2 separate regions of the Homo sapiens genome follow, and region 1 is linked to region 2. Evidence: fine-mapped expression QTL. Tissue or cell type: adrenal gland. Region 2 holds a variant in brackets; the other region holds the start of a gene. All regions are shown on one strand. Distances are between the middles of the regions. Region 1 holds the start of STT3B (STT3 oligosaccharyltransferase complex catalytic subunit B). Region 2 has its middle 100 kb from the start of STT3B.

Region 1 (11,117 bases), 100 kb before region 2:
TTTGCTAACTACAGCCAAAACCTAAGGCTCAGAGAATTCTCTCTAGGGAGAACCCACTTTATAACCTGCTAAGGCAGGGAAAAAAGAGCTCTCACATAGGGAACTTCATTGCTTCTATGGGAAAGGCTACCACAATTGAACAAGATAATGGATATGGAGAAGGTATCTGGCTAATATAAAGTAAAAGTATTATCTCTTACAATAAAAATATGTAGAAAACACATTTTGTTCCAGATAAAAAGGTATAGTTAAGTGCTGTTAAAGTGGCTGATTAACCAAACGTTTGGCAAGTACAGACAATATATTTTCAAACTGCTTCCTCCTATCTGTTCAACTCAGCTGATAAGGGAGGAATTACTAAAGTGAAGTCAAATTGTTACCAAAAATGTTGCTAAATGTTAAAAAAGTGCAGTGTACTTCAATAAATAAATCACACATCACCCCTTATGACAACTGGTAAGATAAATAACTTGGGTGACAAATTTAAAAAACAAGTATAACTCTGTGACGTCACTTTCAGCAGCTAACTTGAGTCTTTTACACAATTTAAGAACTACTGTAAAATTTAAAGAAATAGCTCACAGAGAAAGTAAACCCTTCACTAAAACGACTTGCAGAAATGAAACCATTGATAGAGATATGGAAAAAGAGGTCAGGGAAGGTATGAGCAGGCCAGAATAAATCGGTTTGTGGATGCACAGCCTGAGAGTAACATTTAAATATTATTAAAGGTCTGTGCCATTGCTATATGATATGATGGTGATCTGAGCAACTCCCAAACTAGAAACACTAGAGTGTTCAGCTACAGACCAGTTAAAGTGTTGCGACTATTAGTAGCTATAGAAGAAAACTAGATTTAAAAGCCCCGAAAAGCTTTAAAAGCCCAAAGTAATAATGGCAGGCAATCTACACATCCCCCTCCTTTTAACCTTTTCAAAAAGAATGACTGTAAGAATCAGATAAGAATGAATGAGATGCCTAACTACGTGAGATCTTCAAAAGACATGAAAAAAAAACAAGAACAAGGTATTTTTTTTGTCTGAAACCTGATTCTCTCATTAAGTCACCTGAATTAGACATTATATTAGATTCATACTGACAAATCTCCATTCACGGTAAGGCACAGGAGACAGTCCATTATTATACAAATCTCCTTACTACTAAGCAAGATTATCTAACATTATGAATATAAACATTTAATTAAGAAATGTCAACATTAAAACTATATGCAGAATACCTAAATTAAGTAGCTCTTTAAAACAGAGATGTATACTTTCAAATGGTACAAATTTAGCTAAATGATAATGTGTCAGAAATGCGTTTTCATATATATAAAAAATGAAGCAAAACATATTTTCTTTTTTGAGTCGGAGTTTCGCTCTTTGTTGCCCAGGCTGGAGTGCAGTGGCGCGATCTCGGCTCACTGCAACCTTCGCCTCCCGGGTTCGAGAGATTCTCCTGCCTCAGCCTCCCAAGTAGCTGGATTACAGGCGCCCGACACCACTCCCGGCTAATTTTTGTATTTTTAGTAGAGAGGGGGTTTCACCATGTTGGCCAGGCTGGTCTCGAACTCCTGACCTCAGGTGATCCACCTGCCTCGGCTTTCCGAAGTGCTGGGATTACAGGCGTGAGCCACCGCGCCCGACCAAAACATATTTTCATGTGCATGAAAAAGAATTATGCCCTCCAACCACACTACTGAAGCTGGAAAAAGAAAACTTTTAATACTTAGCTACACTAAAAAAAAAAAAATAATAAAAATAAAAAATAAAAAATAAAAATATTAGCCACTTTACTTGTTGAGCCTTTTCATTATTGCATTACTCAATTTTAGTGGGGATCTTTGGCTGACTTGATGCAGATTTCTAATCTTAAGGAAAAATGACCAAAATCTCATCATTCAGTAGTGAATTTTTCTGCAATCTTTAATTTCAGCCCCAGAGTTACTATTAAACAGTCGTTAGCCTTCCATTTGTAAAAATGTTACTATGGAAATATTCACAATTTTGTTACCTGAAATGTTTGGTCAACCATGCATTTCTGCTATTTTAATCTGAAAAGAGAACTTTCTCTTTTCATATTGTCCAGTAAATACTAGTTTTCATTTTCTGGTTCCAATTTCATTTTTATCTAACTTGCTTAAGTATTTCAAAACAAGACCACCTAATAATATTGTGTCAATAAGCCTTCACAGGTATTCTTAGGCTCATAAATAGTCTACACTAACATATTTTCTTCTGTGATTGCACGTTAACAAAAAGGTTATTTTTTAAAAAAACTAGTGTTAGAAAACAAAATCAAAACTTCTAAAATGGAATGAAAACATTTCATGGAAGACTGTCACAGTAATTAACTGATCTAAATTGAATTGTCCATGAGTGGGCCCCTCTGGTGTTCAATAGATGTTGCAGTACCAATTTTTCTCTCCATAATGCAGAACTTAAATCTGGTATATTACTATACAGGTAAGTTACTGCCCCCCTCCACCCGAACACTTATTATCTATATAGTTAGTAACTCTCAAAAAAGACTCTCTCTCTTTGAATCTCAAATGATGAAACAAATATCCTGAAATTTAATTAGGTCTAACTGTGAGGAAGTAAGATTAACTCAAGGTTGACAGGTCAATAAGATAACACTAGTTTAAAAGGCATACTCTCAGAGGGGAAAATCCTAACTCAGGGGGAAAAATCCTAACTCGGGTTGGGCAAGTTGCGAAAAAAAAGTTAAAGCAATCTTTCCATCTAGATAATTCACAGACCAATGTAGTGTCTAAGTTAGCTAGTGTTGTTAAGAGTGGGGTAATTTCCTAAAACATTCAGGTCAGTCCCTTACACCATGTGCAACTTCGGTATTACAATCTAGGACTCCCATCACCGTGGTACTGTTTGCTCTTATCCACAAACCTTCCTGCAGACCAATAAAGGAACTAATGCAATGCTTTCAGATACTGTGCATAACACACTAAGGGTGACAGTGGCTAACAGGGTAAGGATCTTGTTCTAAAAAGCAACCCAAGACGATAGTGAAACAGTAAGGTGCTGAGTGCACTTAAGAGCTCTGAAAAAAAGCCACTCTTTAAAATACCTAATGATAAATAAATAAGAGTAGCTAGCTTTCAGATCACTTTCAGGGGTATTATTTCCTTCCCTCCAACACGCCATTCACTCTCCTTTTCCCTTCTCGTATCATGAGAGCATAAAAAGAAACAGTAAAAGCGTAAAACTGCAAGGGTGAGCAGCCGGGGTTCCGGCACATCTGGACCCACCTCCAGCGGCAACAGGGCAGCCCCCCTGGCCGATTCCGTCTGAACTAGCAAAAACGCGCCCGCAAATATGAAAGAACGCGAAAGCAGCGGGCGAGGAGGGCGGGGAATCGACCGACAGTCCGCGGAGGAGCTACCTGCCGCCTCCTGGCGTGGCGGGTCCGGACTCAGCGACCAAAGCGGGCTGCGAGGGACTGCACCCACACTCCCGGCGGCTGCACCCACACTCCCGGCGGCTGCATCCACACTCCTGGCAGTCTTCACACTAGCCCGGCCGAGAATCAAGGTTTCGCTCCTGGACCCCGACGCCCCGCCTCAGGCTGCACGGGGCAAACTTCGCCCACGGGCAGGGGGCGCGCCCGGAGCTCCGGGATCCGCGCCGGCCTCAGCCAGGACGCGAGCGGGGCTCCGCGGCGGCGCGGGGCCAAGTCGAGGAGAGCTGCGGCGGGCGGAGGAGCGGGTCCCGGTTCCCCGCGGGCCACGGGCGGGGGAGGGGCGGCGAGGCACTTACCACGGGTCGAACTCGTGGATGATGCTTTCGAAGCGGATGACGGCGAAGAGGCGCGAGCTGAAGCCGGCAAGCCAGGCCAGGAAGAGGATGGTGAAGGAGAGAAGCGACTGCCACCCAGCCGGCTGCGACAGCCCCCCGGACAGCCCCGCCGGGGCCGGCTTCGGCGGCGCCGCGCCGCCCGCCGCCTTGTGCGCGCACTGGGCCCCGGGCCCGTGGTGGCCGTGCCGGCTGTTTCCCAGGGCCATGAGGCCACTCCACGGGGACGAGTTGAGGGACGACTTGTGCTTGCTCTCCGGGGCCGAGGGCTCCGCCATGTTGTGCCCCGGCGGCGGGTCTAGCTCTCCTCCTCCGCCGCCGCCGCCTGGTGCGAGGGGTGCTGGGCGGGGACCCGGAGGAGGAGGAGGAGGAGGAAGAAAAAGGAGGAGGGAAGAGCTCTGCGCGCTCCCGCCCTCAGCGCCGCGAGGCCGGCGGACTGGGGGTGGAGGAAGCGGCGGCGGGGAGTCTCCGCCTCAGCAGCGGCCGCAATCGCCGCTCTCTCAACCCAGATGGCCCCGGCGCCCCACTAGCCATCCGTATCCCCAGTGCAGCTGCGGCGGCGGCGGCGAAAGCCGACGGGACGAGGGCGCCAGGAAAGAAGCAGCAGACGGAGGCGGCACCACGGCTCTGAGAAGCAATGACATTCCCTCTCTAGCCCGCCGCCCGCCCAGCCGAAAGGAGCAGGGGGAGGAGCCCCCTGGAGTCCGGGCGGAGCTCAAGCAACCTCTGACTCCGCCTCCGGCCCGACAGGAACTGGCCCCTCCGCCTGTCACAAAGCGACAGGTCCGTTAGGGGGCGGGCCCAGAACCGCTGCGCCCACCAATAGGGGCGCGAGCTGGGGCGGAGCTTGACCCAACCGTCTCCCCCTCCCCCCCACCATCCCGGCCTCGCGCCGATTCGCCCGGAGTGGCCGAGCTGCGCGGCTACGGCTTCATTGTCAGTTGAAAGACGCGGTTTCGCGCGCCTGTGCGGTCGGCGAGAAAGGGTACTAGGCGGCTCCGCTAGGTTCATGGAGCTGAGCTGGGCCGAGGGGCGGGAACTGCGGAGCGGCCTCGGTCAAACTCGTCTTAAAGGACGCGGAAAGCGCCGCACCGACCAGCAGGACGCTCGCGGGCTCTCCGCGGTCGTGACTTTTAACCCGCTTTGCGCGGAGCCCTCACCACGTGACGGCCGCGCAGGCGCATTATCCTAGCCCTCGGCGCGTGGGTCGGGCCGAGGGGTTCAGCAGCCCGTGGCGCTCCTCGGCTGGCGCTGCGAGTGAGCCCGCGGCGGCAGTGACACAGCCTACCTTGCTCATTGCCCTTCACGTCCCGCCTCCGGCTTCTGCGGCCGCGGGAATCCGAGAATGTGAGCAAAGACAAGTTTTCCGACACCGAAAACTCGTTGGAACCGGCAAGCGCGCCCCTAGCTCCGGCAGGCAAAATGCGACCTTCTCTCGCCCTTTTTCGTTTGTACTCCGAATTGCGAAAGTACTGTATGTTCACTGGAAATATGGGAAAATGCAGAAATACATTAACGGCTGCATACATTCCGTCGAGTGAGTGAAACTAACTTACCCTGGACGTTAAGCTGTTTCCAGTTCTCACTTTACTAAATAATAATAGAACGAAGGTTCTTGTGCACGTCTACCTTGTATTTTTATAATTCCTTTCCTTTCCCCACTTCCCTCCTTGTCCGCTAAAATAAAGTGCTACCAGATAAACTCAGGGCAAAATGAGCTTAAACTAAGTGAGGTAGTGGGGAGACTCGAATTGCTCTTATATAAACCCCATAGAAAGTACGGAGCTTTCGGCGTAATCGGTGCTCAGTAAATACTTGTTCATGTCAATTCACAGCTAATTGTACATTTTATTAGGTAAGTAACATCTGGATATTAAAGGGCATATTAATGTAAAACTATAAAGGCCCTGAATTATTTTCTTAGGTGATTTAAATTTTTCTCTTTAACTACAAATTGTGTTTCAATATTAATAGAAGTCTTAAAATATTAGATAAATGAACCCTAGTTATTTTGAGGTAGCTCCTTGAAAGTAAGGCAACTCCAGCTACCCTTTTAACCTGCTAAGTGGTTACGTTTTGTCTTGTTTCCTTAAAAAAACCATAAATAGTCTTATTAAGGAAATAATGAAAAGGTTTCCAGAAATAGACTTTCTCACCAACAGTTTAATAGCCGACATTTATTGAACGTACACATTTTAATGAGAATTAGGATAAAATATTAACTGCCTCTGTTATACAGAGAAAGATGACATGCTTTTCCTCATAGCCCAAACGGTACATGCTGAAATGACAGCAGAGGATTTTTGTCTGTGTTCCCTGAACCAAAGTTTTATCAGTCTAAAATAAAATTTGTGTTTTTATTTTAATTTGTTTGGATATTTCTATTTTATTGTCTTTGTGTATCTATTCCCTAGTAAGTTCTACGTTATCTTCTTTTGCTTCCTGTTTTGGCTGTTTAATGGCCATAGGCCTGATCTGAAAAGTGACAAAGTGAAATAGTCCCAAATTGTTGCTTACTAGTCATGTAGCATTGGACAAGTCACCTGCATGGGTTGCCCTTTCTGCTCTTAAAGTCAGTTGTTAATATTAAAAAAGCTTATCTGAAAGCATTTTAGGAAATTGTTAAGGAACGTGCAAATACAGGGTAGTGGTAAAGGTGAAAAGCCCTACGAAAACCCCTTGATTTTTGACCTTCATTTATTCACTCATTCATTCAGCAAGTATATATTGAACTCCTTTATGCCGACCACTGTGAGTGAACTGGGATGCATGGGGATTCAGCTAGGAACAGGAAAGACAGGGCTCCTACTCTCAGAGAGTTCACCAGCCAGCCCTAGGAAGGGAGGTATTAACCAAATCATCAGATGGTTCAGGACCAAAATGCAGGGTGACAAACACTGTGGAGGACAGGCACATGGGGAATTTGATCTACACCAGAAGGATGAGAAACATTACCCTGAGGAAGCAGCACTGGAAGTGATGATGAACGGACGAGGAGAAGGAGAATGGAACGCGTTACATAGAGAAGCACGTGCAAAGGCACTGCAGTGGGGCAGGGGAGGCATACGAGTAACCCAGAAAAGTGGCTGCAATGCAGACAGTGGGACAAGGTGCAGTAGGAGTCAAAGGAATGGCCGGGTAGTGTAGGTCCTTTTAAGAGGTGTTTTTTGCTTCATGTTAACTTCAGAATATTGAGAAGCCATAAAGGGTTTTAAGCAGCATGTAGTGTATTTGAGATAGAGGGAGAGAGTTGATCAGATGTGTGTTTTGAAAAGATTACCAAGGCTGCAATGTGAAAAGCATTTTGGAGAGGAGACCAGTAAAAGCTCTACCTGAGAATTCAGAGATTACTTTTGTGAGGAATATGCTATTGTGGAACCACTAGAGAACCCATAAAAATAAATTGCAGCATTGTGAATTCACAATTTCTAGCCTATCAACTTGGAAAAATTGTTTACAGTTTGTGATGAAGCTTGAATGTGTTTGCCCCTTTGCACTTGAGGTTCTAATCCTGCTAGGTGCTTGTAACATCCTCCTGAGTTCAAATATCTCAGGAGTCAATCAAACACTATGGGTGCAACATGATGAGCAGAGTGGTGTGACATCAGAGGCCCAGCTTCCAGGGGAAGGGAGTATTTGAGTTGAAACTTGAGGGGTGAGCAGAAGTTCACAAGACACACCAGGAAGAGGGATGGGGGATTCCAAGAAGGAACGAGGAAGTCCTTCAAATTAATACACAAAGTTTAATATTAATGAAGGTGCATTGGGAGATGAGACTGAAAGAGGGATAAGAACCAGATTATCAAGGACTTGTCTGCCTGGTAAAGGAGTTTATTATTCTGTAAGCAGCTGGGATTCATTGAAACATTTTGAACAACAATAACATGATCAGACTTGGTTGATGGAAGAAAAAAATTGACAGTAGTATGAAAGATGTACTGGAAAGGGTGAGAGTGGAAGCAGAGAAACCAATAAGGAAGCATTTACAGAAATTTAGGCAAGAGAATTAGGTACCAAAACTGGGACAGTAGGGCTCAGAGAGGAGAGGACTGATAGGAGAGGTATCAAGAGGGTAGAGTCCAGAAATTGGTGATTGGGGTAAAATAAAAGTAGGGTTTAGGACAAATCTGGAGTTTCTGGTTTAGTTATTTGGATGGAAAGTGATGTCTCAGAAATAGGGAGCAAAGGACAAGCAGCAGATTTGGAGGGGAGATGATCAAATCAGCTTTGGAGATGTAATGTTTTAAGTCCCTGTAGGACATCCAAGAGGAGCTGGATAACAGACACTTAAAGAGATGTGATGTTCAGGAGGAAGGGTTTTCTGGGATAAAGGCTTGGGACTCCATGGCTACGGGTGAAATTTTGCTGGAATCAAGGCTATAGACAAGGAGACAAGGGTTGAGGATAGAGCCCTAAGGACTTTCCAAATTTAGATGTGCCTACAGGGAGCCCAAGATAGAGCAATGTCCCAGCAGTGAAGAAAGGGAAATAAAGTGAAGTCAGAAGCAGCACAAGGTACAGAGAAATGGAGTGTGACACAGCTGAAAAGTGTACCTTTCTTTTGGCAACCAGGAGTTCACCAATTACTTTAGCAAGGTCAATTTTAGTGGAGTCATAGGGGCAGAAACCAGATGGCAGCAGGTGAGAAGGGATCAGTGGCAAGGGATGTGGAGGCAGAGAATGTATACCACCCTTTCTAAAAGTCTGGTTTCAAAAGCACAGACAGGACCAAATCAGACCAAGAAAAAACTAAATTACGATCCGCAGTCCCTAGCCTTTCCCACAGTGATCAAGAAAAGATTTAAGTGCCTGTGATGTGTCCCAGGAATGACACAGGTCGGAGAGTGGGTTTCATTCTTCCTAGAGAAACACAAACAACAAGACATGTACGCTTGTACTAGACACACCACACTAGGGGGCTGCTACGGTCTACAATATAATTGACATTTGCAAATATCTGGTAACTGAGGGAATTCCCAATGCTTATATTGTCCCTTTCTGACAAGCACCTGTCAAAGAACCTCCCTGGTAGTCCATAGCCCCAGTAGAGGAGAGAAGCAGAGAGGGAGAAAAAAGATTTGAGCTAGGTATGCTGCTAAGTGGTACTGTGTGGTGGTTTAGAGCACAGGCTCTGCAGACACGCTGGGTACCAAATCTTGACTTTAGTTCTTCTGAGTCACATGGCTTTTGGCAAGCTACTTCCCATCTCTGCTCCTTGGTATCCTCATCTTTACAGCGTAGATAAGCACTGAACCTTTCTCTTAGGGTTATAAGAAGAAATAAATGAATCAATACATGAAAATAACTTAGGACAGTGCCTGGCGCAAAGGAAATATTCAATATATGTTGGTTATTAACAATATCACTGGTACTACTGCTATATTCAGAACCATGACAGATGGGCTATGAGACTTACTCCCCTGGATAGCCTTAAAATAATTCTCCATGACCCGAGCCCATACGAGTGCTTCTTTATTTCTTTAAGCCAGAAAATGCCTGCTTCAAATAAAACACCTTACAAAGTTAGGCAATACCTAGCTGCTGATAATGAATAATAACCTCCAATTTATAATCCAATAGAACTGGGGTCTGCAACTTTTTTTGTAAAAGGCAACACAGTAAATATTTTCATCTTTGTGGGCCATGCTGTCTCAGGCTACTACTCAACCCTGTTGTTGTAGTGTGAAAGTAGCAATGGACAATATGTAAGAGAACAGGCATGGCTGTTCTTCAGTAAACACAACCACACCTGCAGACCAGAGTTTGTTGGCCTTTGCGGTAGATGATAAGGGGATTGCTGTGATCTAATCTAGCTCAAAATCCAGTATGAGGCAGAGAATGTTTTCTATCATGATCACTGTGAAGAGTGAGAGCTTGTGTCTGGGCAGTCATCAAGGACATGTTCATGAAGTGATTGGCCTTAAAGAATAGGTAGAATGTTGGCCGGAAGCTGTGGCTCACGCCTGTAATCCCAGCACTTTGGGAGGCCAAGGCAGGTAGATCACAAGGTCAGGAGTTTGAGACCAGCCTGGCCAATATGGTGAAACCCCCATCTCTACTAAAAATACAAAAATTAGCCGGGCATGGTGGTGCACACCTGTAATCCCAGCTACTCAGGAGGCTGAGGCAGGAGAATGGCTTGAACCTGGGAGGCGGAGGTTGCAGTAAGCCGAGATCACAGCACTGCACTCCAGCCTGGGTGACAGAAAGAAAAAAAAAAAATGAATAGGTAGGATGTTGACAAGTGAGATTTGGAGTGTGGGAAGGATGCATTAGAAGCAGAGGAAGGCCGGGGGCGGTGGCTCACGCCTGTAATCCCAGCACTTTGGGAGGCCGAGGCGGGCGGATCACGAGGTCAGGAGAAGGAGACCACGGTGAAACCCTGTCTCTACTAAAAATACAAAAAAATTAGCCCGGCGCGGTGGCCGGCGCCTGTAGTCCCAGCTGCTCGGGAGGCTGAGGCAGGAGAATGGCGTGAACCCGGGAGGCGGAGCTTGCAGTGAGCCGAGATCGCGCCAATGGACTCCAGCCTGGGCGACAGAGCGAGACGCCGTCTCAAAAAAAAAAAAAAAAGAAAAAAAAAAAAAAAAGCAGAGGAAAAGGAAAAACAAAGCCAAGCAGGGGACACTTGGAAATGAGCCAGTAATCTACAGCTGAGATGCAGTGTCACATTTTATCTTTATTTGCTACCATTGAAACAACACAACACTCTAGTCTTAAAATTCCAGATCATATATAGGAAATTAATTTTCTATTTTAGTACTTTTGAAAATTCACATTTCTATGCCCACTATCTCATGGTTTTCATAGAAGGACATTGTAACAGTGAGGCACACATTTGATTTCAAAAAGGGCCAAAGGATAATGGCTTAAACAAATAGAAGTTTATTTTCTCTCATAAAGTGAAATTCAGAGAAAGGTGGTTGCTGGTATGAAGTCAGTTGCTCAACAAAGCTTTCAACTTTTTCTGTCTTTATACTCTTTGCTGGATTCTCGGATGTCATTTTCACCCCCTTTTATGCTGTCCTTTGCATTGCATAGCAGAAGCTGAGAAGTACTTTTCCCAGATTCTTTTCTTGTATGACTCCATGATATTTTGTCAGTGAGGGGAGCTCAGTCGACAAAAAAGACAGAGAGGATTTCAGATAGAAAAGGAAGAATGGGCAAATGTAAGATTTACACATCTTTTTGGCTGGTGTGAGAACAACTTACATAATTGTCATTGACTAAGACAATTTTGGGGAGCTTTTTGGAGATTATTGAGAGTTGGAGCAGTTTCCTAGAGAACTTCTGAGAGCTCCCTGC
Region 2 (11,857 bases):
TGTGGTATCTCTTCTGCTGGAGGGTTATATATCCCTGCCCTGCTGAACTCAGGTATGGCCATGTGACTTGCTTTGTCCAAAGGAATATAAGTGAAAGTGATGTGCAAGACTTGCAAACAGAAGATCTAAGGGCTCTTGTGTGATTTTTACCATACCTCTTTCTTTCTGCTACAAACCAGCCAGGTCACAAACAGTCAGCTCCATCAGTCTGATCCCCAGGGTGAAGCTGACCTGGAGAAGCACTATAGCTGATCTGTGATGGACCAAACTTGGGGTCATTTGTTACTGCAGCACAACAGCTTAACCTGACTGATGTAGTAATGAAAATATTTGGGCCCCAGTTAGTGAAAATAATTTTTGTCCTTCTACCTCTTTGTCCGATTTTTTCTCATAGAAATAAAATCACCATATTCAAGAACACTTTTCCAGGCCAGTGTGCTGGCTTAGAAATAAGCTGTGAAGTCACTCACTGAAAAATGAGGCTCCTACATCGTAATAAACTCCAGTTCATTTCTAGAAAAGCAGAGACTGGTTGCTCCACAAGGGCTAGGATCACACTGGTCTTGCTTGTTGCTGTATCTGTGGTGCTTAGCAAAGTGCTTTGCCCATAATGCTCAGTAATTATTTGTTGAATGAATACTGAATAACTGAATAAAGAAGAAATCAGGTGTCTCCATTCTTATGGATCAGACAAGACCATAGGTGGCATTTTGTATTTAAAAAATTACTTTCGTGTTTAGAATTATACAAGCAAGTTAAGTCAAGTAAGGAACTGAGAGGCAAAAGTGGGTCTAAAGAAGTCGATAAGGGTCACTCCAGGTATCACAGCCCCAAATGTGGCTCAGACCTATGCAGAAAGCATAAATGAGTGAGACAGGCTGGATCACTTCAGCACAAAAATATACACCCTCTCCTTTCTCTTGAAACATGGTTCTCTTAGTCTAAATTTCATTGTATTTTGATAGAGATGTGTGTGAAAAATACTTATCTCTCTAACATAACTATAAGAAAAACAATAGCAGGAATATAATGACAATCAGTTACTCATGGTTAACCTTGGCTTCTAGGGCACAAAAGTGGTGACCTGAACAGCACACATCCTATCAAAAGAAGTCAGGGATTTCTCAGCTCCTGTTGAGTGCTGCTGTGTTGTGCTGTGGGATATGAGTCCAGTCTTCCCAGAGCATCCTAATTTTCAGGAGAATCTTGTAATCTGGATTTTGGTTTTGAATTTCCCAATGTTTAAATGTTGGCAATGAAAAAAATGATATTAAAATTGATGTAGGTTAACAGAATGCAGCCCAGTGAAATACTTTTCAGGGCAGATTTGATCCATGGGCTACCATTTGTGACTTCTGACCTTGGTCAATTTTTACAGGGATGGTTTATGAGGTAAAAGCTCTAGACTTTAATATTAAATTTGCATGGTGTGTATGTGGTTTTTAGGAGACACCTGGAGGAGGAGCTGTTTTGAAAGTCTGCAGCTAAATTGGGGTTCCAGTACCAGAGTGGCTAGTGACTCTGCCCAGGGGAAGCTGCCTGTGGGTGTTTATGGTTTGCCTCTCTTAGCATACTATACTTCTTTACATGGCAGATGGCCTTAAGCCTAGTGGTTCAACTTGTGACCAGGAGTCTTGCAAATGGGAAGTTTGTTTATACTGGCAGACATCCTTGTGGCTCTTGTCTGACCCATGTCCACTTTATGCCTGCCTGACCATCACTCTGGCCGTGGGAGCCTGACCTCACATTCTTTCCAGTGTCCCAAGGAAAACCTGGTTTGGGGAAGCCCCTGATTCTTCAGATGAAATGTGCAAATTCAATACATCACCAAAGAGGAAACAAGTTCAAAGATTTTTACTTTCCGAGCAAGGAGGACATAATGAGTCAGGAGGGCAGTCTTTTGTCCCCGGATCACCTAAGGCAGTAAAGAAGGCTCAGGCAGATAGAGAGAGAGAGAGAGAGAGACAGCGAGAGAGCAAGAACACGAGAGTGAGCATGTGGCAACTAGAGCATGTATAAGAGAATAATGTGGATCACTTTAAGTTTGCAGGCAAACGTCTGAATCATCCGTTTGAAAGAAGTGGCAGGAAAACAGGGAGCCCAGTCTGCCAGGTGGGAGAGATACCTCTAAGTTCTTATCTCTGGCCACTGGCTTGAGCCATTTGCATGTGGTGTAGAACTGGAAACTGTGTCCAGGATGACTGAGCCCTGCTTCTGGTATGAGAAAGTTAAACTTGTATTCAAAATGAATGCCAAGGCAAGATAAAACCCTGAGAATTCACCACATAGGCTGATGCCAGTTTCCATTGCCCCAAACTGCAGATTGGTGGTTCATCACCTGAGCTGCCACAGGGACAGCAGGAGGCTGCTGTGTGTCCTTTCTGAATCTCTCCTGGAGTCAGGCCAAGGTCCTTTGACTTTGAGTATTTCTAAGATTAAATAGGAGATTTGGGCACTAAATTATATATTCAGAGTGTCCTTGCTGGAATGAAAAGTTTTAATTTTGTGCAAGTGTGTTCATTTGTTTCTTGTTTCTTTCTCTCAGATAATATTAGGAAATGTCTAATCTCCTCCAAGAGAAAAGATATTGGCCTGGATGAAAATGCAAAGAGTTTGTGGTCCTAGGAGAAAGAAAATTCTAGAAGAGAAGAGAAAGGCCTGCATGTGAGGAGGTACCCTTGAGAGATGTGTACCACAGCAGTGGCTACTGCTTGAAGATGTCCATGATTTTGGGAGCAGTACCCAACTGATGTTGAAGATGTCCATGATATTGGGAACAGTACCCAACTGAGTTTAAAGAGGACAGTTGTCCAGTTGTCCTGCTTGTAGCCACCCAGCATCACTGGAACACCTTCCTTTTTTCTACCTTGGAATTTTCCATCATTTAAAATCCACCTCCTGAAGGTAGAAGGCAGAGCTCACCTTCCTGGTCTCTCCAACAGCTGGTGCTCAGGCCTCTGAGCTAGGCTTTGGGTGATATGGGTTTCTTCTGTTTGTCCCTCCAGATCCACTCTCCACCATTCTCTACCTTTCCTGTCCTCCAGGAGGCTGACTTGGATGGACTACATCACCAAGGTTTCCTTGTCTCTTGCTTCTGGTTGGGTTTGGCCAATGGCAGCAATGGCAGGCAGTTGGAGAGTGGGAGGGGAGTGCAGTGGGGACATTAACCCCCAGCTCCATCTATGCTGAGCAGTGTTCCTACTGTTGTTACATTTCTATACCTAAGAGCCCAGCTTGGGAAGGGAAGCTGTCACCAGGTTCCAGAATAGCTCCTTTCCCTTGGCCCTTCAGATCTAGGTGCAGTAATGTTTTCCCCCTGTCGCTAGTTTTTGGGTGCTTTACCATCCTTTCCCACACCATTGCAAACAGCCCCCCTAATAAACTTTCTGAAAGTATCTTTCTGAGTGTGTCCTCTTTTTCCTGCTTGATTCACTTTGTTCATCAGATCTTTGCCAAACCTTTACCCAAAAGCTTGTGACAGAATAGAGCTGGAATAACATGATGGTTAATTGTATGTGTTGACTTGGCTGGGCCATGGCATCTAGATATTTGGTCAAACTATCTAGATTCTGGATGTTTTTATAAAGGTGTTTTTGAATGTGATTAATATTTAAATTGGGACTTTGAGCAAATCAGATTGCCCTTCATTGTGTGGGTGGGCCTCATCCAATCAGTTGAAGGCCTAAATAGAACAAAAGTCTAGCCTCTCCCCAAGCAAGGCGGAATTTTGCCAGCAGATGGCCTTTGGATTCCAGCCACAACATTGGCTGTTCTCTGGGTCTCAAGCGACTGCCTTTGGACTTACTGCAATTCCTCCCAGCTGGTCTACCCTATCAGATTTTGTACTTGCTAAGCCTTTGCAGTCATGTGAGCCAAGTCCTTAAAATAAATCTCTCTCTTGGGAGGTTAAGGCTGTGAGGTAGAATTTCTGGCATGGATGTGGTAGTGGTACGAACTCATAAATACTGCTTGGTGGCAGTGGTAGTGATAACATTTTTGTCATCAGACTAGTTCTGCAGTGTGGGTTTAGGAATTGTTCCTGGGAGCTCATCTCAAGCCTGTTTCTCGAGATTTCCAGAGGATTTTGTGAACTACTTACCATCCTTTGAAAAATCTCTTTTGCTTATTCAATCAGAGTCTAGCTTTAACTAACCATCACAGAAGCATGGATGAACTATAGTTTGAGTAAGGTCATATTATAAACAAAGATTTGTTTATGTTTATTGTCTTAAACATATTTATCAAATATAGTTTTATGGCTTTGAAATAATTCATTTTTTTTCTTGCAATAAGCAATAAATATGCTGTCATTCAGCTGTACTATTATTTCTTTCTTTGGGGTGTAATATACTTTTCCAGACTGGCACAAATAAAACTACTCAAGCATATTGTTATCATTCCCTCATTTAATTTCACTTCTGAATGACCCTGCAATCTTGATTTAGCATGAAGAAGCAAA[AT/T]GTGATTGTGTTTGCAAGACACCGCTTTCTAAAATGGTATGTGTATATTGGTCTGTGTTCCTTTCTCTCCTTCTCTTTATATAAATATGAAGTTAAGCTTGCAGTTTCTGTTATGTTTGTGGAAGGATTAATTTCTACAAAACAGAAGATTTAAAAACCTGCCTTAGGAACAGTCCTACTTGTGGGGTAATTCAACCTATGGTTTTTATTTCTGATATAATAATGTCTTAACTTTTTGGCTCCCATGGGAATGCATGAAAGGATGAAATTTATGAGAAAATATGATTCTCCTCTTGTTATATGGATTAACTAATGGCTCTATCTCTAAACTGAGCATCTTTTGTACAATATTCTTTTAAGTGTAACAATAGTTTTATTTCCAAATATAGAAATTTATATATTTATGTATTTATTTTTTCAGACAGAGTTTCACTCTTTTCATCCAGGCTGGAGTGCAGTGGTGCGATCTTGGCTCACTGCAACCTCCACCTCCCGGGTTCAAGTGATTCTCCTGCCTCAACCTCCCGAATAGCTGGGATTACAGGTCCCCAACACTATGCCCAGCTAATTTTTGTATTTTTAGTAGAGGTGGGGTTTCGCCATGTTGGCCAGGCTGGTCTCGAACTCCTGAGCTCAGGTGATTCACCTACCTGGACCTCCCACAGTGCTGGGATTGTGGGTGTGAGCCATGGTGCCTGGCCTCATTTGTACCTTTTTGTGGCTTGATAACTATTTTTTTATGCTGAATAATATTTCATTGTACAGATGGACTACAGTTATTATTTATCCATTCACCTATTGAAGGACATCAACTGTAGTTTTTCCCTTTAATTTTTAATAATTTTTTTAAATTAAAAAATTTTAAGGCTGTGAGTTAGAATTCCTGGCATGGATGTGGCAGTGCCACAGACTGTATGATTATGGCCTGATGCCAGTGGTGGTGGTCACAGTTTCCTCATCATACTAGATGTCACAGGGTTCATATTTAATTTTAATAGCTGTGTATATCATGTTCAGGCTAAATAGCATACTTAAGAGCAGGACAAGAGCACAAGCAAATTTATGGATTTAAGCTTCTGTTTTCTTTTATCATTTGTACTGCAGTGATAAACTTGATCTCTTTGCTGCTCCCCAAGGCGCAACTTAAAAAATATATTTTTCTCCAATTGTATTAATAAGAACTCTTTTAGCTGCTTATGCATGGCATCCCCAGAGACCACATGTGAGGACCCTACTTCATCTATTGTCCCAGTCATCATCGAATAGGAAAATTGAAACCTTTCCAGGTAGTTTAAACAGAGAGGGATTTAACATAGCAAAAGTCCCGGAATGACTGGAAAAGCAACATAAGGAAGATAATGTTGCTTAGAAGTCAAGAAACTGCTTCTAGCAAAAAACGTATTCTGAGAAGACAAAGGAAATGTCAGAACCAGATTCAGATGTGGCAGAAATTTTGGAATTATCACATGAGGAATTTAAAGTAACTATGATTAATATACTAAGGGTGCTAGAAGAAAAAAATGTAGCAGAAAGATGTAAACTCTAAAAAAGCATCAAAATGAAATACTAGAAATAAAAAACATGATAACAGAAATGAGGAATGCCTTTAAGGGACTCATCAGTAAATTGGACATGGCCGAGGACAGAATCAGTGGGCTTAAAGATGTGTTCATAGAAACGGGGTGAACTGAAAGGCAAAGAGAAATAAGAATGAAAAACTGGAACAGAATATCCAAGAAATCTAGGACAATTACAAAAGGTATAATATACATGTAGTGGGAATACCAGAGGCAAAAAAGTGAAAGGAACAGAAGAAATACTTGGAATAATAATGTCTGAGAATTTTCCAAAATTAATGACATCCAACAAACCACAGATCCAGGAAGGTTAGAGAACATCAAGTAGGATACATAGTAAAACAAAAACAAAACAAAAATCCTGACACCAAAGCACATCATATTCAAACTACAGAAAATCAAAGACACAAATCTTCAAAGAAGCCAGGGGAAGAAAACCACCTTACCTATAAATAATGAGGATAAGAATTACACTAGACTTCTCTTCAGAAATGATGCAAGCAAGAAGAATGTAAAGTACAAGATTTAAAGTGTCAAAAGAAAAAAGCTATCCACTTAGAATTATGTGTCTAGAAAAATTATCCCTTAAAAGTGAAAATGAAATAAGACATTTTAGATAAAAGTGAAGGAATTTGTCCCAAGACATGCCTTGTAAGAAATGTTAAAATAATTTCTTTAGAGTGAAGGAAATAATATAGGTCAGAAACTCAGATCTACATAAAGAAAGGAAGAGTGTTAGAGAAGAAATTATGAGGGTAAAATAAAATCTTTTCTTATCCTTAATTGCTCTAACAATAGTTAACAGTTTGTTAAAAATAATAATATATTGGATGATATACCTTATGGATAGTGACACAAAGGGCAGCAATTTCATAAGGGATGGAAGGGAGGGATTGGGCATATTGTATTACAAGATAACTGTACTAGCTATGAAGTGGTACAGTGTTGTTTGAAAGTGGACTTAGATTAGTTGTAAATGTATATTGCAAACTCTAGGCAACCAGTAAAAATTTTTAAAAAGAAGGATAATTGAATGCTAAGAGAGGAGAGAAAATAGAATGGTATAAAATGCTCAATTAAAACCAGAGAAGGCAGAAAAAGAAGGAAATACCAAAAAAAGAGGAGACACAAAGGCTACACATAGAAAACAGTTACAAATATGGTAGATATTCATCCAAATATACCAAAATCACTTTAAATGTAAATGGTCTAAATACACTAATTAAAAGACAGAAACTGTTAAAGTGGACACAAAATAAGACCCAACTATGTATTGTCTTACAAGAAACTCCCATTAAATATTAAGACAGATAGGGTTTAAATAAAGAGATGGAGAAAGTTATGCCATGCTAACACTAATGAAAAGAAAGCTAGAGTAGTTATATTAACTTCAGACACAGCAGACTTCAGAGCAAGGAAAATTATTATGGACAAAGGAGGGCATTACGTAATAATAAAGGGGCAAATTCTGTAGGAAGACATAACAATCCTTACTGTGTATGCACCAAAAAACACACTGTTAAAATAAATTAGACAAAAACTAAAAGATTGCAAGAAGAAATAGACAAATCCAACTACCATAGTTGAAGACTTCAAATACATACAGCAAGTACTAATAGAACTGAAAAGAGAAATAGACAAATCCAATTACTGTTGGTAACTTCAATGCTTCTAGTTTACCAGCTAATCAAAAAAGTAGACAATCAGCAAGGGTATAGAAGATCTAAGTAACACCATCAACCAGCTTGATCTAATTGACATTAAAAAACACTTTACTTACCAATAGCAAAATGCACATTATTTTTAGGTCCATATGAATATTCATCATGATAAACCATATCTTCAATAATAAAACAATCTTGAATAAATGTAAAAGAATTGAAATAACTCAAAGTATGTTCTCTGACCTTAATGAAAACAAACTAGAAATCAATAAAGATATCTGGGCCGGATGTGGTGGCTCATGCCTGTAATCCCAGCACTTTGCGAGGCTGAGGAGGGTGGATCACCTGAGGTCAGGAATTCGAGACCAGCATGACCGACGTGGTGAAACCCTATCTCTACTAAAAGTACAAAAAAATTAGCCAGGTGTGGTGGCACATGCCTGTAATCCCAGCTACTTGGGAGGTTGAGGCAGGAGAATTGCTTGAACCAGGGAGTCGGAGGTTGCAGTAAGCCAAGATTGTGCCATTGCACTCCAGCCTGGGTGATAAGAGTGAAAATCCATCTCAAAAAACAAACAAACAAACAAAAAATACATATATATATATACATATATATATATATATATATATATATATATATATATATATATGGAAAATCCCTCAGTATTTAGAAATTAAACACATAATTCCAGATAATTTATGAATCAAAGAGGAAATCTTAAGGCAAATTAAAAAATATTTTGAAATAAATAAAAACACATCGTATTAAAATATGTGGGATGCAGCTAAAGCAGTGTTTAGATTCAAATTTTTGGCATTAAGTGCACATATTAAAAAAGAAGAAAAGTTTCAAATCTGTAAGCTTCCACCTTAAGCAACTAGTAAAAGAAGAGCAAAATAAGCTCAAAAGAAAGCTAAAGGAAAGACATAATAAATATAAAAGCATAAATCAATAAAATAGAAAACAGAAAAATAGGGAAAAGTCAATGAAACAAAGAGGCAATTATTTGAAAACATCAATAATACATACATAATACCTGATATGGTTTCGTTTTGTCCCCACCCAAATCTCATCTCGAATTCCCATGTGTTGTGGGAGAGAACCGGTGAGAGGTAATTGAATCATGGCGGCAGGTCTTTCCTGTGCTGTTCTCAGGATAGTGAATAAATCTCACAAGATCAGATGGTTTTAAAAAGAGTTCCCCTGCACGAGCTCTCTCTTTTCCTGCCGCCATCCACATAACATGTGACTTGCTCCTCCTTGCCTTCTACCATGATTGTAAGACCTCCCAAGCCATGTATAACTGTAAGTCCATTAAACCCTTTTTCTTGTTTAAATTATCCAGTCTTGGGTATGTCTTTAATAGCAGTGTGAGAACAGGCTAATACAATACATCTATCCATACGCTCCAGGGAAAAAATAAAAGACACAAATAATCAACATCAGAAATGAAATAGGAATATTACTACAGACGCTGCAGACTTTAAAATGGTAATAAGAAAAATCTATAAATAACTCTATACACATAAATTCAACAACATAGATAATATGGACCAATTCCTTGAAAGAAAAAAAATTAGCAAAAGTTATTTAAGAAAAAATAGTCCTATATCTTTTAAAGAGATTGAATTCATATTTAGGAATCTTCAAAAAAAAATCCCACAGAAAACAAAAGTCAATAACAAAACCAAATCCCAAAACTTTAGACCCAGAGAGCTTTACTAGTGAATTCTGCCAAACACTTAATGAAGACCAAAGCACCATTTCTACAAAATCTCTTATATAAAATAAACAAGGAGGGAATACTTCCAAACTCATGATACAACTCTAACATTACTTTGATACAAAAACCAAAGATAGTACAAGAAAAGAAGATAGACCAGTGACATTGATACAAAAATCTTCAACAAAATATCAGCAAATTGAATCCAAGAATATATAAAAAGAATAATGCAATACAACAAAGTGGGATTTATCCTGAGAATGCAAGGATGGCTCAGTATTTGAAAATGAACCAATATAATCTACCATATGAACACACCAAAGAACAAAAATCCTATGTATTGGCTAGGAAGTTCTTCTGACCTGGGATGAGCTGCTTCATATGTTTGTAATCAGCTCTAGGTTGGGTAGGCAGGTCTGCTGATCTTAAGTGGGCTCTCTTATGTGCTTGAAGGTCAGCTGTTGTTGAAGGGGCTTGGATGACTTGGATGGCTGGAATGACTGTTCTCTTTCACATGGTTTCTCTCATTCTTCAACATTTGTTTTTGTGGCACTGGCAAGGATTCCAAAAATAGGACAAAATCATGCACCTGTTAAGACCCAGACTTGGAACTGGTTCACTATCACTTCTATTGCATTTTATTGTCAAAAGAAGTGACAAGACCAGCCCAAATTCAAAGGGTATGAAAATAGATATTTGATTAGAGGACCTACAAAGTCACATTGCAAAGGGGTATTGATCAGGGAGATACAGGGGGAGACAGAGAATTTGGCCCATTTTGGGCAGTCGGTATACACAGAGATTCACTTAGGTATTTTCAAGAAAAGGGCATTCATTACAAAGTACACATGGCTATATATTACAGCTTGCAACTAGACCTAATCTTAGAAGCTCTATTTTCCTCTGTGTGTCCTGCTAATTAGTGTCTCTCTTCCTTCCCTTCCCCCTCCTCCCTCCCTTCCTCCCTCCCTTTCTCTTTCTCTCTTTCTCTCTCTCTCTCTTCCTCCTTCCCTCCCTCCCTCTCCTTCCTTCCTCTTTCTTTCTCTTTCTTTCTTTCTTTCTTTCTTTCTTTCTTTCTTTCTTTCTTTCTTTCTTTCTTTCTTTCTTTCTTTCTTTCTTTTCTTTCTTTCTTTCTTCTTTCTTTTCTTTCTTTCTTTCTTTCTTTCTTTCTTTCCTTCTTTCTTCTTTCTTTCTTTCCTCTTTCTCTCTTTCTTCTTTTCTTTCTTTCTTTCTTTTTTTTTTCTTCAGGGTCTTGCTCTGTCACCCAGGCTGGAGTGCAGTGGCATGATCATGGCTCATTGCAGCCTTGACCTCCCAGGCTCAAGTGATCATCTCACCTCAGCCTCCCTAGTAGCTGGGACCATAGGAGCATACCACCATGCCTGACTAATATTTAAATTTTTTTGTAGAGACAGGGTCTCACTATATTGCCCAAGCTGGTCTCAAACTCCTGGGCTCAAACATTCCTCCTGCCTCCACCTCCCAGTATACTGGGATTACAGGCATAAGCCACCATGCCCAGCTGTGTCTCTTTTTTTCTATCACAACTGTCTAGATCTTGGTACTAATTCCTGAGTGAGAATGTGATGGGTCATTTCTATCATGGACTATCCACCAAACTGTAGATTGACTGCCAACTGCCCCCCATATCCCCTCAGCATCACCATTTCAGTAATTGTCAGTATTGTGCTACTCCGTGTATCTGCAACTCTCTGCTTGAGGGCTTTCTCTTGTCCCAAGCTTGTGGGCCAGTCTGGCAGTGCTGGGGATCTGATCTACATCAATGGCAGATGATATTGGTGGATATGGCAGATTGTTTGCGTTTAAAGTACCAACTCTTAAACCCTCTCTGAATCCATGCCCCTTGCCTTAAGACTTTGCAGTTTCTCTCACTAAAGAGAGGGTGTCTATTTTCCCATCACTTAAATAAGGGCTTCATGTGATTTTCACTGGTCTGTAGGACATTATATTAGCGGACTTTTTGTAAGCAGAGGCTTGTGAAAGTCCTTGTGCATTTCTGCTTTCTCTGCTATTCCTCTGTGACTGCGCTGAGAACATGGCCAGGCTAGCCTGCGCAAAAATGAGACATATGGAGCAGCCAAGGCCTTTGTAGAACAACTGATAGTCATATGACCCCTGGGCATGTGAGAGTGAACCAAGCTAAGATCAGCAGACCCAACTAGCCAATCCACAGCTGGACTGCAGATGCATGAGTGAGCTTAGCTGAGATCAAAAGAAACTGCCCAGCTGACCTGCAGACTCATGAGCAGAATAAATGGTTGTTATTTTAAGCTACTAGATTCTCCTTGAACTCTAAGCCTGGAGGCTTTAGTGATTCAGGCAGGAGAGGTTAGGTTCCTGACTTCTTTAGCAAGAGATAGGTTTGAGCATTAGGCATTGTTGAGAAGGGAGATTTTTCTAAATTTCTTTAG

What was found.
Region 1: it holds the start of STT3B, and the variant in region 2 is fine-mapped to the expression of STT3B in adrenal gland (GTEx, PIP 0.92).

Annotation. Positions count from the first base shown.
Region 1 is chr3:31,525,972-31,537,088 of GRCh38, reverse strand. STT3B (STT3 oligosaccharyltransferase complex catalytic subunit B) reads right to left here and starts at 4,164. Exons shown (of 16, transcript NM_178862.3): 1 at 3,777-4,164. The coding sequence starts at 4,090. RefSeq lists enhancers at 991-1,490, 1,491-1,992, 3,432-3,491, 4,342-4,481, 9,738-10,238 and silencers at 3,652-3,801, 3,882-4,011, 4,042-4,271, 4,582-4,841.
Region 2 is chr3:31,423,452-31,435,308 of GRCh38, reverse strand. No RefSeq gene overlaps it. Among named protein-coding and RNA genes, the nearest start is that of STT3B, 100 kb to the left of the region's middle. The variant AT/T (reference allele first, on the strand shown) is at 4,460.